Linked DNA regions of Homo sapiens. The protein of the gene in region 1 purifies or fractionates together with the protein of each later gene. This does not show direct contact. Each region holds a gene or a part of one and is shown in the gene's direction. Other genes may lie near its edges.

Region 1 (3,946 bases):
GTATTTTCTATTTTTCCTTCAAATCTAGATTCCAAATTACAGAAATGCAGTCATTGTAGCTAAGTCTCCTGATGCTGCAAAGAGGTAAGTAAGCTAGACATGGGTCCTGATCCCTCCTGAGTGCTCCCGAAGTCAGAATGAGCTGCTTTGGAATCCAGAGGCTGTCACTCGTGGCCTTTGAAAGCCCACTGGCTCTCATGTTAACCCCTCCATCGTTGTCATGTCCCATGCCACACACAGCTTTATCTCCAGCCTCCAGACAGCACACATGATCGCTGAGTTGCTCAGCTTTCCTCTGGGAAAACAAAGTTCCTTCAAGTTCTCAGAGAAAGGAAAGCAATGAGGCTATGAGCATTTTTCAAGCAATGGTTTTTTTTTTTGTTTTTTTTTTGAAATGGAGTTTCATTCTGTCACCTAGGCTGGAGTGCAATGGCGCGATCTCGGCTCACTGCAACCTCCGCCTCCTGGGTTCAAGCAGCTCTCCTGCCTCAGCCTCCCCAGTAGCTGGGATTACAGGCGCCTGTCACCACTCCTGGCTAGTTTTTTGTATTTTTAGTAGAGATGGGGTTTCACCATGTTCATCAGACTAGTCTTGAACTCCTGACCTCAAGTGATCTGTCTGCCTTGGTCTCCCAAAGTGCTGGGTTTACAGGCGTAAGCCACTGTGCCCGGCCCAGGCAATGGTTTTTAACGTTGTTCTTTCTTCTGAAGATGACTATCAGAATATTGGACAAAGGATAGAATCAAAATTATCTAGAATCAGGGCCAGGCGGGGTGGCTCACGCCTGTAATTCCAGCACTTTGGGAGGCCAAAGCGGGAGATCGCTTGAGCCCAGGGGTTCAAGACCAGCCTGGGCAACATAGACCCCGTCTCTACAAAATACAAAAAATAGCCAGTTGTGGCAACACATGCCTGTGGTCCCCGCTACTCGGGAGGTTGAGGTGGGAGGATCACCTGAGCCTCAGGAGGTTGAGGCTGCAGTGAGCCATGTTGACGCCACTGCACTCCAGCCTGGGTGACAGTGAGACCTTGTCTCAAAAAAAAAAAAAAATGTCTAGAATCAGATACAATCCCAAACCCTAACTCACGTGCCCTTTGAGTCATTTACATGCTGGCCTGGGCCTCACATTCTCATTTATATAAATAATGCCTTTGTATGTCCCTGAAACGTTAAATATTTTCATTTTATGGTTAAAAAATGATGCCGTAGTGATGCGTGGGATTTCTTCCTGTCAGTTTCACCATTTCCCTTTGTCCTTCTAGGGCCCAGTCCTATGCGGAGAGACTGCGTCTGGGTTTGGCCGTCATTCACGGGGAAGCTCAGTGCACGGAACTGGACATGGACGATGGTCGTCACTCCCCGCCTATGGTCAAAAATGCTACTGTGCACCCAGGCCTGGAGTTGCCATGTAAGATGAGCTCTGTGTTTTTATTTTATTTGTAAATTGAAGAAAGTTTTTTTTTGTTGGTTTTGTTGGTTTTGTTGTTGTTGTTTTGTTTTGTTTTGTTTTGTTTTTGAGATGGAGTCTCACTCTGTCACCCAGGCTAGAGTGCAGTGGCGTGATCTTGGCTGACTGCAACCTCTGCCTCCTGGGTTCAAGCAATTCTCCTGCCTCAGCCTCGTGAGTGGCAAAGATTACAGGTGTGTGCCACCACGCCCAGCTAATTTTTGTATTTTTAGTAGAGACAGGGTTTCACCATGTTGGCCAGGCTGGTCTCAAACTCCAGACCTCGTGATCTGCTCCAGACCTGGTGATCTGCTCGCCTCAGCCTCCCAGAGTGCTGGGATTACAGGCATGAGCCACTGCACCTGGCCCTGAAGAAAGTTTTAAGTAGTATGAATGGCTAGGAGTTATCGACTATGTAGATATATGCTGTCTTGTTGTTTTTTAATAATGGAATGGTATTTGCTATCCTCCGCCTTTTTTTTTTTTTTTTTGAGAAAGGATCTCCCCCTGTTGCTCTGTACAGTGGCACAGTCATGGCTCACTGCAGCCTTGACCGGGGCGCAAGTGATTCTCCCACCTCCGCCTCCTGGGTAGCTGGGACTGTAGGGGTACACTACCATGCCTGGATAGTTTTCTGTTCCTTTTTTTTTCTTTTTGTATGGAGACGGGGCTCCCTGCATTGCCCAGGCTGGTTTTGAACTTCTTTGCTCAAACAATCCTCCTGTCATGGTCTCCCAAAATGCCGAGATTACATAAGATTACAGACATGAGCCCCATGCCAGGCCCGATTTCCTCTTTTGTAAAAGGAAGTTGTGTTATACACATTTGTAGACTGTGTATGGACGGTTCTGCGTAGCACTCAGCATTCAGACGGTGTTTGATAATTTTAGCTTCAGTAAAAAAGTTGTATGTGTGATGGTGTGAAATCTTAAGCTTTTACATTATCATAAGCTGGGTGACAGCTGTTGATCAAATACCAGGCTTTGGGGATCAGGTAACTTTTATTTTTACTTATTTATTTATTTTGAGATGGAGTCTCACTCTGTCGCCAGGCTGGAGTGCAGTGGTGCAATCTTGGCTCACTGCAACCTCTTCCTCCCGGGTTCAAGCAATTCTCCTGCCTCAGCCTCTCCAGTGGCTGGGGCTATAGGTGCGCGCCAACACGCCGAGCTAATTTTTGTATTTTTAGTAGAGATGAGCTTTCACCATGTTGGCCAGGATGGTCTCGATCTCTTGACATTGTGATCCGCCTGCCTCAGCCTCCCAAAGTGCTGGGATTACAGGTGTGAGCCACCGTGCCCGGCCTATTTTTATTTATTTTTATTTTGTTTGAGACTGAACTCGTTCTGTCGCCCAGGCTGGAGTGCAGTGGCATGATCTTGGCTCACTGCAGCCTCCGCCTCTTGGGTTCAAGCAGTTCTCCTGTCTCAGCCTCCCAAGTAGCTGTGACTTCAGGCACACACCACCACACCCAGCTAATTTTTGTATTTTTAGTAGAGACAGGGTTTTACCATGTTGGTCAGGCTGGTCTCGAGCTGCTAACCTTAGGTCATCCGCCTGCCTCGACCTCCCAGTGTGCTGGGATTACAGGTGTGAGCCACCGTGCCAAGCCGTAATCTGCATTTTTAGCTTTTTATTTTCAACTGACTTTAGACTTAAAGTTGAAAGAATAGTACAGATTTCCAGCATATGCTCTTCACTCGGAGTCCCCAAATTTAACATTTATATACATGGGGTTTTTTTTTTTCCACCATTTGAGGGTGAGTTGCAGACGTAATGTCCCTTCATTCCTAAATACCTTCGTGTATATTTGTAAAGACAAAAGACTCTTATATAACCAGAGTATCATTATCAGACTCAGGAAGCTAACATTGCTGTAACACTGTAATCTACAGACCTTACTCAGGTTTCACCAGTGGTCCCAGCAGTGTCCTTTAGAGCAAAAGAATAAACTTGTTTTCTTGTTCAAGACCTAACCCAGGGTCACACATTGCATTTAGTTGTCATTTCTTTTTAGTCTCATTTAATCTGGAGTGGCTGCTTTATTCTTTGTTTCTTATGACCTTGATACTTTTGAACAGTGCGATCAAGTGATTTTGTAGACTCTCCCTTAATTGGGGCTTGTTTGTGTCCTCAGGATTAGATTCAGGTTATGCATTTTTGGCAGAAAATCACAGGAAACACATGATGTGTCCCATTACTGGTGATGTGCATTCTGATAAGTTGGTTAAGGTTTCTCTGGCAGGTTTCTCCACTGTAAAGTTACTCTTTTTTTTTTCCTCTTTGTAATTAATACTACCTCATGTTAAGACTATGTTTTAACTGTAAATATTCTGCTTCTCATCAAAATGAACATCTACTGATGATTCTTGCCTGAATCAATTATTGACTGTGATTGTTGTCAGTGTTCATTTTTCTAACTCTATCATTCCTTCTACATTTATTAGTTGACCTTCTAATGCAAGAAAGCTTTCTCTTCTTCCCTATTCATTTCTTC
Region 2 (3,569 bases), on another chromosome or scaffold:
ACTGTACTCAGTAGACCCACTGAAGGAATTCCTAAAAATACGTATGTCCCCATCCCCTAAATTCTAATTCCAGAGGTAGATTTAGACACTCCACAGGCTGTCCTTGTGTGTCTTTTATTGAAAACCTCTTTTTTATAAAATTAATCTACCCAAGATAACACTTCATGAAAACCTCTTTTAAGGTTAAAGATTAAAGGTTAAGATTAAGATTAAAGATCTGCCCACGTCGGCATAGAAACAGGTGGGGTTTTCTGACAGGGTCTTGCTCTGTCACCCAGGCTGGAGTGCAGTGGCATGATCAGAGCTCATTGCAGCCTCGACTTCCCTTGCTCCAGTGATCCTCACATGTCAGCCTCCCAAGTAACTGGGACTACAGGCGCACGTTACCACACCTGGCTAATTTTTGTATTTTTGGTAGAGACAAGGTTTCGCCATGTTGCCTAGGCTGGTCTCGAGGTCCTGCACTCAAGCGATCCACCTATCTCGGCCTCTCAAAGTGCAGGATTACAGGCATGAGCCACTGCGCCCAGCCCAGAAAGAGTTCTAAAATGGAGAAATATCCTCAAATGCTGTGTTTTGTTATCATGCTTTCATAATGCACTTGGTAGAAATCTCAAAGATTTCATGTAGATCTTAAAAATAAGACTGCTCATTTTTAAAATAGTTAACTTCTATTAAACATAAGCTTGTCAGTCATAAGGTTTGAAGTACATGGAAGGTACTGTGAATATGAATTTAGAATTACACTAAAAGAATGTGAATCTTGGTCATGGATAAAGCAGTTTATCGGCTGAAAACTCCATTTTTATTGTCTGTACAAGGAAATTATGATATAGGAGAATTCAGCTTATCTAGACAGTCTTAAGTTTCTAAAAATGCTTCCTTGACCTGAGACAAGATGATGGTTTCCTGTCCTTTTAGTGATCACTTAGATCAGTTTTTAAAAATGTACAGTAAACAGTGGTTATACTGGAGCAAGTGAAGTCAATTAGGTGCATAGATTTTCACCCTTAATTTGTTTATTTAAAATTTTAGAACCAGAATCATTAGAATATTTTAGTTTTGTTGTTTAATAGTGCTTAAGAGCAAATGTTTGGAAAGTAAAAATAACTTAGCAGAGCCTTGGGTTGAAAATCTTATTTACTACCCACCAACCCTGTAATTTCCTGCTGTTTAAATTTGGACACTTTGGTACATTATATATTAATTGCTTAAAAGTTAATTTGTTACCTTTCAGTCCTTAGGAAGTGAATGAAGGAATACTTTAAAACATTACCATATCACCCAGGATTATGCAGAAACTCATTTCACTACATCCTCATATCATGACTCTGTTTACTCCCATCCCCAGGGCCTAAGCAAGGCCCTGTAAAGCGTCGTCTTCAGCCCCCACATTCACTGCTGCTCGGAAACAGCACTGCTGCACTACCTTTTTGGAAGTGGGATCTCCCACAAATGCTGATTTCTGAGGAGACTCCCTTTGACAGCTCTTGACTGGTGCCCTTCAAGCAGTATGGGAGCCAGCTAACAGTGTGGAGGTCACTGGCACCAAGCTGTTCTGATGAGAGTAGAACACCTGGGAAAATTTTCTTCTGTCCATTTCAGATGGGTGGTGTTTTTCCAATGACAGAAGAAAAGTATGTAAAAAATACTTAAACCCTTCCCTACACTTAATAGGTATGGTAGTAGACTCCTTTGGGCTCACTCATTGTTCTTGCTTCTCAGTAAGTGACAATGATTAAATATCATTCATTTTTCAGTGTTAACTGTGTAAAATTAATAACTAATGACCAAAAAAAAAAAAAACTAATGACCAATTTGCATTTTCTCCAAATCAAAAGAATATACTAATACTTTGCTAAGTATGATGAAATCAGTCCTTACATGTGTGCTTTAGGAATATGTGTGCTTTAGGAATATGTATGATTTTTTTTTAACGATAACAGAAAAATTCAAATGTAAACAGAACTATATAAAATTGCTTAAACCCCCATGTAGATATCATTCAGTTTAAATTAGCTTATTAATTCATGGATGGTTATTGTTTGCTCTATACGCTACTTCCCTCTCCTTAATATTTTGAAGTAAATCTTAGTCATATCATATTATCTAAAATTAATTTAAAATTATTGAAAGACTATCTTGAGTTGTATAAAGATATTTGAGCAGGTGTCTTTTACAAAACAGCAGAATTCTTTACTGAAGCTATAAAATAAGGAAAAGTGCATAAATTTATAGTTCAACAAACTGTAAAGATAATTCTTGTAAAAAATTTTATTCCACTAAAATTACTCATGATTTTCCTTTCCAAAGATAAACACTATTACCATCTTGATTTATAGTCCTCTAGTCTTTTTAAGCATAGATTTATGCACAAATCTAGATGAAGATTGCATATAAACATATGCATTCATAGCACCGCCACTCAAGTCAAGATATGGTATTCCTTACTAATTGCAGTCCCCTACCTCGGTCTATTATTCTGACATGTGTGGTTTGAAATAATGCTTTTTAAACTCTTTTTCATCATAAAATAGATCAGCCTTAAACATTTGGAAAATATGGCAGTTCTTTTTATGGAAAACTCTTGCATAATTAAAAATGATTTTAACAGAGAATTTAATGATAAAGAAAAATGCTTATGATAAAATGTAGGAGGAAACAGGTTATATAAATGTATAATGATATCTCAGCTATATAAAAATTTAATAGAAAAATAAAATAAAAATCATCGTTAAAATTTATCTCACTGTACTGTTAGATCAAGCTGGTATTGGGGTTAAATTTTTATGAATAAAATAATGTGAATGAAATTAATTAGAAGCAACTAGAATGATAGGAGGCGGGAAAGGCTAAGTAGTTTTGCAAAGTAGAGTAGCTGTGTATGGATTCAAGTGCAATAAGAAAGCTGGTGTTGTCAGGTTCAGATTGAAAAGATAATGTTAGGTAAAATAGGTAGAAGAGTTTGTAATTTGTAAACATTATACATGACTTTCTATTTAGGCTAATATAAAAGTAATTTTTAGTATTTATGTTCTTGGTGATATTTTAACCTCATTAACTCTAATTGAAATGATAGTATAGATTTGTTAGTTTTCCTTATCACATTGTGATGTGTTGAGTAATGTTTGTTTCCTAATAGATAAGGCCTTTTATGAAAGCGCACCTAAATCGTGATAAAGACAAAGAACTTTTAAAATTAACTCAGTACCTCAAGGAGATAGCAAAATTAGATGACTTTTTGGATCTAAATCACAAATATTGGGAAAGGTAAGTTTTAATTGCTTATTTATTTTCTCTTTACATCAATGAAGAAAAAATTATCATTTTTCATCAGTGACCCCAGTATATATATAGCTGTCTTAATTTTTATTTAAAATAGGTGACTTCTAAAAACATTTTCTAATCCAGTGACCTACCCCCAAAAGTATTTTCCCCTTTCATCTTAACCTCTAACTTGTTCATAAACATACCTCTTGTAAACTCTTTAATACTTCTAGAAGAGAGAACTTGAGAGACTAGCATATGTTGGTGATGCTGCCTGTAAATTATTTTGTGATGTTAGGTAA
Region 3 (3,946 bases), on another chromosome or scaffold:
TCCACTTATGGACTGCCTCTCCAAGAGCAGGGGGTCTGTTTCCCATCTGATGGACCACTTACCTTCTTTTCTTTAACTCTACTTTCTATCTCCAAAAATCCACTGAGTATTCACATTACTGATTAGCTGTGTTTTCCAGAGCCATTGCTAATCGCACGTCGACCTTACATAAAAATGGAATATTCATGCATTTTCTATGTATTTTTAAAGCCATTATTTGTGGCACAAGCTCAGTGTGCTTTCAGAGACACTGAACACTCTGTTGAAGAAACTCAAATGGCTTTTAAAATAAAAAGACAAAATCATTATCTCTGTGTAGAGGATGGTTTTATCCTTGAAGGTTTACTATTTGAAACCTCATCACAATAGAATGCTGAGGGAAGTTTTTGGAAGTACAAGCGTGATAGTTCTCAGATGATGTTTGCAAAGTTGAAATATTGTCCATACTCTTAGGAATTCAGTGGAATGCAGTAGCAGAAGCTCTCTGGTGCTTAGTGAATGAATGAAAATTTTTTTTTTTTTTACCTTGCAGGTGAAAAAGGTGTGAGGGTTGAACTCAATAAACCTTCAGATTCGGTCGGTAAAGACGTCTTCTAGAGCCTTTGATCCAGCAATACCCCACTTCACCTACAATATTGTTAACTATTTGTTAACTTGTGAATACGAATAAATGGGATAAAGAAAAATAGACAACCAGTTCGCATTTTAATAAGGAAACAGAAACAACTTTTTGTGTTGCATCAAACAGAAGATTTTGACTGCTGTGACTTTGTACTGCATGATCAACTTCAAATCTGTGATTGCTTACAGGAGGAAGATAAGCTACTAATTGAAAATGGTTTTTACATCTGGATATGAAATAAGTGCCCTGTGTAGAATTTTTTTCATTCTTATATTTTGCCAGATCTGTTATCTAGCTGAGTTCATTTCATCTCTCCCTTTTTTATATCAAGTTTGAATTTGGGATAATTTTTCTATATTAGGTACAATTTATCTAAACTGAATTGAGAAAAAATTACAGTATTATTCCTCAAAATAACATCAATCTATTTTTGTAAACCTGTTCATACTATTAAATTTTGCCCTAAAAGACCTCTTAATAATGATTGTTGCCAGTGACTGATGATTAATTTTATTTTACTTAAAATAAGAAAAGGAGCACTTTAATTACAACTGAAAAATCAGATTGTTTTGTAGTCCTTCCTTACACTAATTTGAACTGTTAAAGATTGCTGCTTTTTTTTTGACATTGTCAATAACGAAACCTAATTGTAAAACAGTCACCATTTACTACCAATAACTTTTAGTTAATGTTTTACAAGGAAAAAGACACAAGAAGAGTTTAAATTTTTTTGTTTTGTTTTGTTTTTTTGAGACAGTCTTGCTCTGTTACCCAGGCTGGAGGGGAGTGGTGCATTCTTGGCTCACTGCAACCTCCGCCTCCCAGGTTCAAGCAATCCTCCCACCTCAGCCTCCCAACTAGCTGGGACTGCAGGCACACACCACCATGCCTGACTAATTTTTGTATGTTTAGTAGAGACGGGGTTTTGCCATGTTGCCTAGGCTGGGGTTTAAGTTAAATTTTTTAAAAAACTAAAGTGACTGGCACTAAGTGAACTTGAGATTATCCTCAGCTTCAAGTTCCTAAGATAAGGGCTTTCTTAAGCTTTCAGGTGTATGTATCCTCTAGATGTAGACAATAATGTCCCATTTCTAAGTCTTTTCCTTTTGCTTCTCCTTAAATTGATTGTACTTCCAAATTTGCTGTTATGTTTTTTTCCTAATACTGTGATCTATCTGATCTGCAGACAAGAACCTTGTCTCTGTTGAAGAGCATCAAGGGGAGATTATGTACACATTGAAACTGAAGTGTGGTGTTACTGACGGAATGTGCAGTAACTCCTCAGATATCTGTTAAGGCATTTCCCAGATGTGATGCCAGCCTTCTTACCTGTACTGAAAGATGCTTAGCTTAGAAAAAAACAAAACAGATGCAAAATCAGATAATTTTATTTTGTTTCATGGGTTTTCTTATTTACTTTTTAAACAAGGAAGGAATATTAGAAAATCACACAAGGCCTCACATACATGTTATTTAAAGAATGAATTGGGACGGATGTCTTAGACTTCACTTTCCTAGGCTTTTTAGCAAAACCTAAAGGGTGGTATCCATATTTTGCGTGAATTATGGGTGTAAGACCTTGCCCACTTAGGTTTTCTATCTCTGTCCTTGATCTTCTTTGCCAAAATGTGAGTATACAGAAATTTTCTGTATATTTCAACTTAAGACATTTTTAGCATCTGTATAGTTTGTATTCAATTTGAGACCTTTTCTATGGGAAGCTCAGTAATTTTTATTAAAAGATTGCCATTGCTATTCATGTAAAACATGGAAAAAAATTGTGTAGTGAAGCCAACAGTGGACTTAGGATGGGATTGAATGTTCAGTATAGTGATCTCACTTAGGAGAATTTGCAGGAGAAAGTGATAGTTTATTGTTTTTTCCTCGCCCATATTCAGTTTTGTTCTACTTCCTCCCCTTCCTTCCAGATGATAACATCACATCTCTACAGTAAGTGCCTCTGCCAGCCCAACCCAGGAGCGCAAGTTGTCTTTGCCATCTGGTCTATAGTACAGTGCGCGGCGTTAGGCCACAACTCAAAAGCATTATCTTTTTTAGGGTTAGTAGAAATTGTTTTATGTTGATGGGAGGTTTGTTTGATTGTCAAAATGTACAGCCACAGCCTTTTAATTTGGGAGCCCCTGTTGTCATTCAAATGTGTACCTCTACAGTTGTAAAAAGTATTAGATTCTACTATCTGTGGGTTGTGCTTGCCAGACAGGTCTTAAATTGTATATTTTTTGGAAAAGTTTATATACTCTCTTAGGAATCATTGTGAAAAGATCAAGAAATCAGGATGGCCATTTATTTAATATCCATTCATTTCATGTTAGTGGGACTATTAACTTGTCACCAAGCAGGACTCTATTTCAAACAAAATTTAAAACTGTTTGTGGCCTATATGTGTTTAATCCTGGTTAAAGATAAAGCTTCATAATGCTGTTTTTATTCAACACATTAACCAGCTGTAAAACACAGACCTTTATCAAGAGTAGGCAAAGATTTTCAGGATTCATATACAGATAGACTATAAAGTCATGTAATTTGAAAAGCAGTGTTTCATTATGAAAGAGCTCTCAAGTTGCTTGTAAAGCTAATCTAATTAAAAAGATGTATAAATGTTGTTGAAACATTATGGTGGTTATTTCCAGCTGTCTTTTTTGTTTTTCAATCCTTTATCATACATTGGCTTTCCGAATGATCCCTTTCATCAGATAAAGCTTTTCTGGCTTAGTCTAGGACATTTGTTATAACTTTTTGTAAATGATAATGAAGGAAAGAGAACAGTAAACATAGGAGTTCAACAATTTTAGAAACATCCCTGGGGTCATTGGACTGTCTGTGGGATCCATGAAGTCTGTTTGGATTCTCAGCACTTGAATTCTTGCCCTTTTAGTAGGATTTTTAAAATTATTTTAACATTCATAGCTGTTGACAGATCTGTATCACCCCTCTGCTGCAAAAGGAAGTGGGGTTAGGCATTTATCTCTAATTGTCATAGATGTACCATTGTGTATATGCAAGAAGGTTTAATTTGTGTGGTCATAACTAAAATATGAGAGCTCTTATTAAGGTGAGATCAAAATACCTGTTTATATATCTGTTATTTAAAGAAAAATTTTCCACAGTGTTTTGTTATTTTCCAGCGTTTCTTAGAACATTTGGGAATTACACTAAAATATAGCTGGGTGGATTGAAGTAAAGGGCAAATGAGTTTGAGATGAAGTTTGAGATGTGCTTTTTTATATACAAAAAGCACATCTTCCACCTTAAACAGTTGTATGAGACCTAAATGAAATACAGTGTGCAAAGTACCTTACAATG
Region 4 (3,946 bases), on another chromosome or scaffold:
CCAGCCTTTAAAACTGCTTTTTAAAATTCTTTCCTAGAATTGTGATTTTTGTTTACAAGACATAATATAACTCTGTAACAGTTGTTTTAAATGAGGGCAGGAAGGTATTGAGGCAAAAGGGAAAACACTGGACATATACTCAGGGCAGTAGCAGCCAGTAGGGGTCTTTTGTTCTCCCAGCTTTTTACTTTGAAATTTTTCAAACATAGGGAAGTTAAAAAAACATGCTGACTACCCATATACCTTTCACTTACTTTTGGCATTGATAACATTTTGCCACATTTGCTTTCTGTATTTATTAATATACAACTTTTACATATATATGTAGTAAGTTGCAGAAATCATGATACTTCACCATTAAATACTTAACTGTGCATTTCAAATGAGGATTCTTGTAAGTGTATATCTAAATATAAGATCAGATTTGCTTTTTGTAAATAATCATGGTGAGTGTTTTACAATGGTGCTTGATTAATTTTTGTCAGATTAGGTTTTCAGTAAAGTCATTGTTGGAAAAGTTTTCAGACTTAACGATACAGTAGTATATTCAGTGCTGACATGATGGACAGTTTTAGAAAGGTGGATATATGGATAATTTTCTCTCTCTGTTATGTTTTTTCAGTGGCCAGTATTTAGTTTACTAAGTTGTGGCTGAAAGTACATTACGTACTCTAACAAAATTACATCCACTAATGTATATATTTTTACCAGAAACAAATGTACCCCTGAGTTATGGAGGGGGTGAAAAGTCATATGATTCACAAAGTCGCTGTGGCAACACCAAAACAGATGACCTAGAAATGATTGTGGTTTTAAGAAAGCACCCATTGCAAGCTCATTTTTAACTCTCATCTTTCCTCCTTTTTTTTTTAATATAATACTGCTGTGACCACTTAATGTTAGGTAGATACAAAAAAGTTTTACCTTATTTTTAAAATAATGAATTATCTGAATAGATTTGAATCATTGGCTAAAACTGTTGTTAATTTTAACATTGGGTAATGAACAGAATGCTATCATTATATATTTTTTAAAATTTTTTCTAAGTGAATTGCCTTCAAGTTTATATTTAGTTGGAAACATGCACCTAATTCAGGATTTATGTATGTATGTATGTATGTATTTATTTAGAGACAGAGTCTGGCTCTGTTGCCCAGGCTGGAGTGTAGTGGCATGATCTCCGCTCACTGCAACCTCTGCCTCCCGGGTTCAAGCGATTCTCCTGCCTCAACCTCCCAAGTAGCTGGGATTACAGGCACCTGCCACCACGCCCGATTAATTTTTGTGTTTTTAGTAGAGACAGGGTTTCATTCACCATGTTGGCCAGGCTGGTCTCAAACTCCTGATCTCAGGTGATCGGCCCGCCTTGGCCTCCCAAAGTGCTGGGATTACAGGCGTGAGGCACTGTGCCGGGCCATGATTTATTTGTTTTAAATGAAGTGTCTGGCTACTTTACCCAGGGTATACTGAAGAGTATGCGTTTCTTAGAAAATAGCTCAAGGGGTATAGACGCATGAAAAGGTGGAAAACATGTTTTCCATTTAACTCCTAAGGTTTTCTTGTTATTTTGGTTTTATTTTAATAGTACTGACAAATACTACCTTGATTAGAAAGTTTGAACTATAATTCCATTTACCAGGGCTAATTTCTCCATCATTACAAAGTTTATTGTAGCTGACATTACTTTTATGTTATATTTAATCAATTTATCCTAAATTAAAAAAAAATTCAGAGTCATTGAGAGCATCAGCTCACTCATCAGTAGGCCTTTCTTGAGAGTAACTCTTTGACAATTGTCTTCAGTGATACAAAGGTTTTTGACAACAACTTTTATGATTGCTTTTAGGCCTTTTCTCTCGTGACCCTTTCTTAGTAGTTGAGAGTGTTGCCTTAAAGTCAAGATTTGTTAACTTTTTGGCCATTATTTGAATTTAAGATGGTAAATATCATCTGATTTTGTCTGATAAGGAATCATATGGGGTTTTAAAAGGCAATGGGTGTTAAATGCACTGACTTTTAATAGGTAATAAAATATTTTTAAGCTTTATGTCAGTGTGACAGTCGTGTTTTTCCAAAGTAAATTTATTTAAATAAGTATTTGGAGAATAACGTTGGACTTTTTGAAACTCAGGTTTCTCTTAAGTTTTTTGAAGTTGTTTTTATTCATTTTTAGAATGGATATAAGTTCAGATTTATTTCTCTACCATTAAATAGTCATTGTATAATTTTAGATGAGTTTCTTTAGTCACACCCTGAGGTTTTGAATATTGTAGACCACTAAACAGCACGTTTCTTAGTAACACACCTAATAGATTTTTCTTCTTATTTTAGTGGGTTTTAAAAAAAATTTGTGGGTACATAATAGGTGTCTATATTTATGGGGTACATGGGATGTTTTGGTACAGGCATGTAATGTGAAATAATCATATCATGAAGAATTAGGTATTCATCCCCTCAAGCATTTATCCTTTGAGTTACAAACATTCCAATTACATTATTTAAGTTATTTTAAAATATACAATTAAGTTATTATTGACTATAGTCACCCTATTGTGCTATCAAATAGTAGGTCTTATTCTATTTTTTTGTACCCATTAACCATCCCCACCTCCCACTCAACCCCCCATTACCCTTCCCAGCCTCTGGTAACCATCCTTCTGTTATGTCCATGAATTCAGTTGATTTGATGTTCAGATCCCACAAGTAAGTGAGAACATGTGATGTTTGTTTTTCTGTGCCTGCCTTATTTCGGTTAACATAATGATCTCCAATTCTATCCCTGTTGTTGCAAATGACTGGGTCTGTTTTTTTATGGCTGACGAGTACTCCATTGTGTGTATGTACCACATTTTCATTATCCATTCATCTGTTGATGGACACTTAGGTTGCCTCCAAATGTTAGCTATTGTAAACAGTGCTGCAACAAACATAGGAGTGCAGATCTCTTCGATACACTGATTTCCTTTATTTTGGATATATACCCAGCAGTGGAATTGCTCGATCATATGGTAGCTCTATTTTTAGTTTTTTGGGGGACCTCCAAACTGTTCTCCGTAGTGGTTGTACATTCCCACCAATGGTGAACAAGGGTTCCCTTTTCTTTACATCCTCACCAGCATTTGTTACTGCCTGACTTTTGGATAAAAGGCATTTTAACTGGGACAAGATGATATCTCATTGAGTTTTGGATATCTGATGATTAGTGATGTTGAGAACCTTTTCACCATTTGTGTGTCTTCTTTTGAGGAATGTCTATTCAGATCTTTTGCCCATTTTTTATCAGATTATTAGGTTTTTTCCTGTAGAGTTGTTTGAGCTCCTTATATTCTGGTTATTAGTCCCCTGTCAGAGGGGTAGTTTGCAAATGTTTTCTCTCGTTCTGTGGGTTGTCTCTTCACTTTGTTGATTACTTCCTTTGCTGTGCAGAAGCTTTTTAACTTGATGTGATCCCATTTGTCCATGTTTGCTTTGGTTGCCTGTGCTTGTGGGCTATTGCTCAAGAAATATTTGCTCAGACTAATGTCCTGGAGATTTTCCCCAGTGTTTTCTTGTATTAGATTCAGTTTGAAGTATTTAATGCATTTTGATTTGAATTTTGTATATGGCAAGAGATAGGGGTCTGGTTTCATGATTTTGCATGTGTTTATCCAGTTTCCCAGCACCATTTATTAAAGAGACTTGTCTTTTCCCAGTGTATGTTCTTGGCACCTTTGTCAAAAATGAGTTTGCTGTAGGTGTTTGGATTTGGTTTTGGGTTCTCTGTTCTGTTCTATTGGTACACGTGTCTGTTTTTGTGACAGTACCATGCTGTTTTGGTTACGATAGGTCTGTAGCATAATTTGAAGTTAGATAATGGGATTCCACCAGTTTTGTTCTTTTTGCTTAGGGTGGCTTTGGCTATTCTGGGTCTTTTCTGGTTCCATATAAATTTTAGTATTTTTTCTAT

What was found. Proteins that work in one complex are often made in the same cells at the same time.
Region 2: the proteins of PRPSAP1 (region 1) and UBLCP1 fractionate together in Homo sapiens (co-fractionation; one large-scale study listed by BioGRID). This does not show direct contact.
Region 3: the proteins of PRPSAP1 (region 1) and EGLN1 fractionate together in Homo sapiens (co-fractionation; one large-scale study listed by BioGRID). This does not show direct contact.
Region 4: the proteins of PRPSAP1 (region 1) and ANKRD28 purify together in Homo sapiens (affinity purification with mass spectrometry; one large-scale study listed by BioGRID and IntAct). This does not show direct contact.

What each region holds. Positions count from the first base shown.
Region 1 is NC_000017.11:76,326,181-76,330,126, reverse strand, and holds part of PRPSAP1 (phosphoribosyl pyrophosphate synthase-associated protein 1), read left to right. Parts: intron 1-28; coding exon 29-84; intron 85-1,264; coding exon 1,265-1,410; intron 1,411-3,946. UniProt on the Homo sapiens protein: Seems to play a negative regulatory role in 5-phosphoribose 1-diphosphate synthesis.
Region 2 is NC_000005.10:159,280,070-159,283,638, forward strand, and holds part of UBLCP1 (ubiquitin-like domain-containing CTD phosphatase 1), read left to right. Parts: intron 1-3,142; coding exon 3,143-3,270; intron 3,271-3,569. UniProt on the Homo sapiens protein: Dephosphorylates 26S nuclear proteasomes, thereby decreasing their proteolytic activity. Recruited to the 19S regulatory particle of the 26S proteasome through its interaction with 19S component PSMD2/RPN1.
Region 3 is NC_000001.11:231,363,062-231,367,007, reverse strand, and holds the end of EGLN1 (egl nine homolog 1), read left to right. Parts: intron 1-532; coding exon 533-597; 3' UTR 598-3,252; downstream 3,253-3,946. UniProt on the Homo sapiens protein: Cellular oxygen sensor that catalyzes, under normoxic conditions, the post-translational formation of 4-hydroxyproline in hypoxia-inducible factor (HIF) alpha proteins.
Region 4 is NC_000003.12:15,791,254-15,795,199, reverse strand, and holds part of ANKRD28 (serine/threonine-protein phosphatase 6 regulatory ankyrin repeat subunit A), read left to right. Parts: intron 1-3,946. UniProt on the Homo sapiens protein: Regulatory subunit of protein phosphatase 6 (PP6) that may be involved in the recognition of phosphoprotein substrates. Involved in the PP6-mediated dephosphorylation of NFKBIE opposing its degradation in response to TNF-alpha.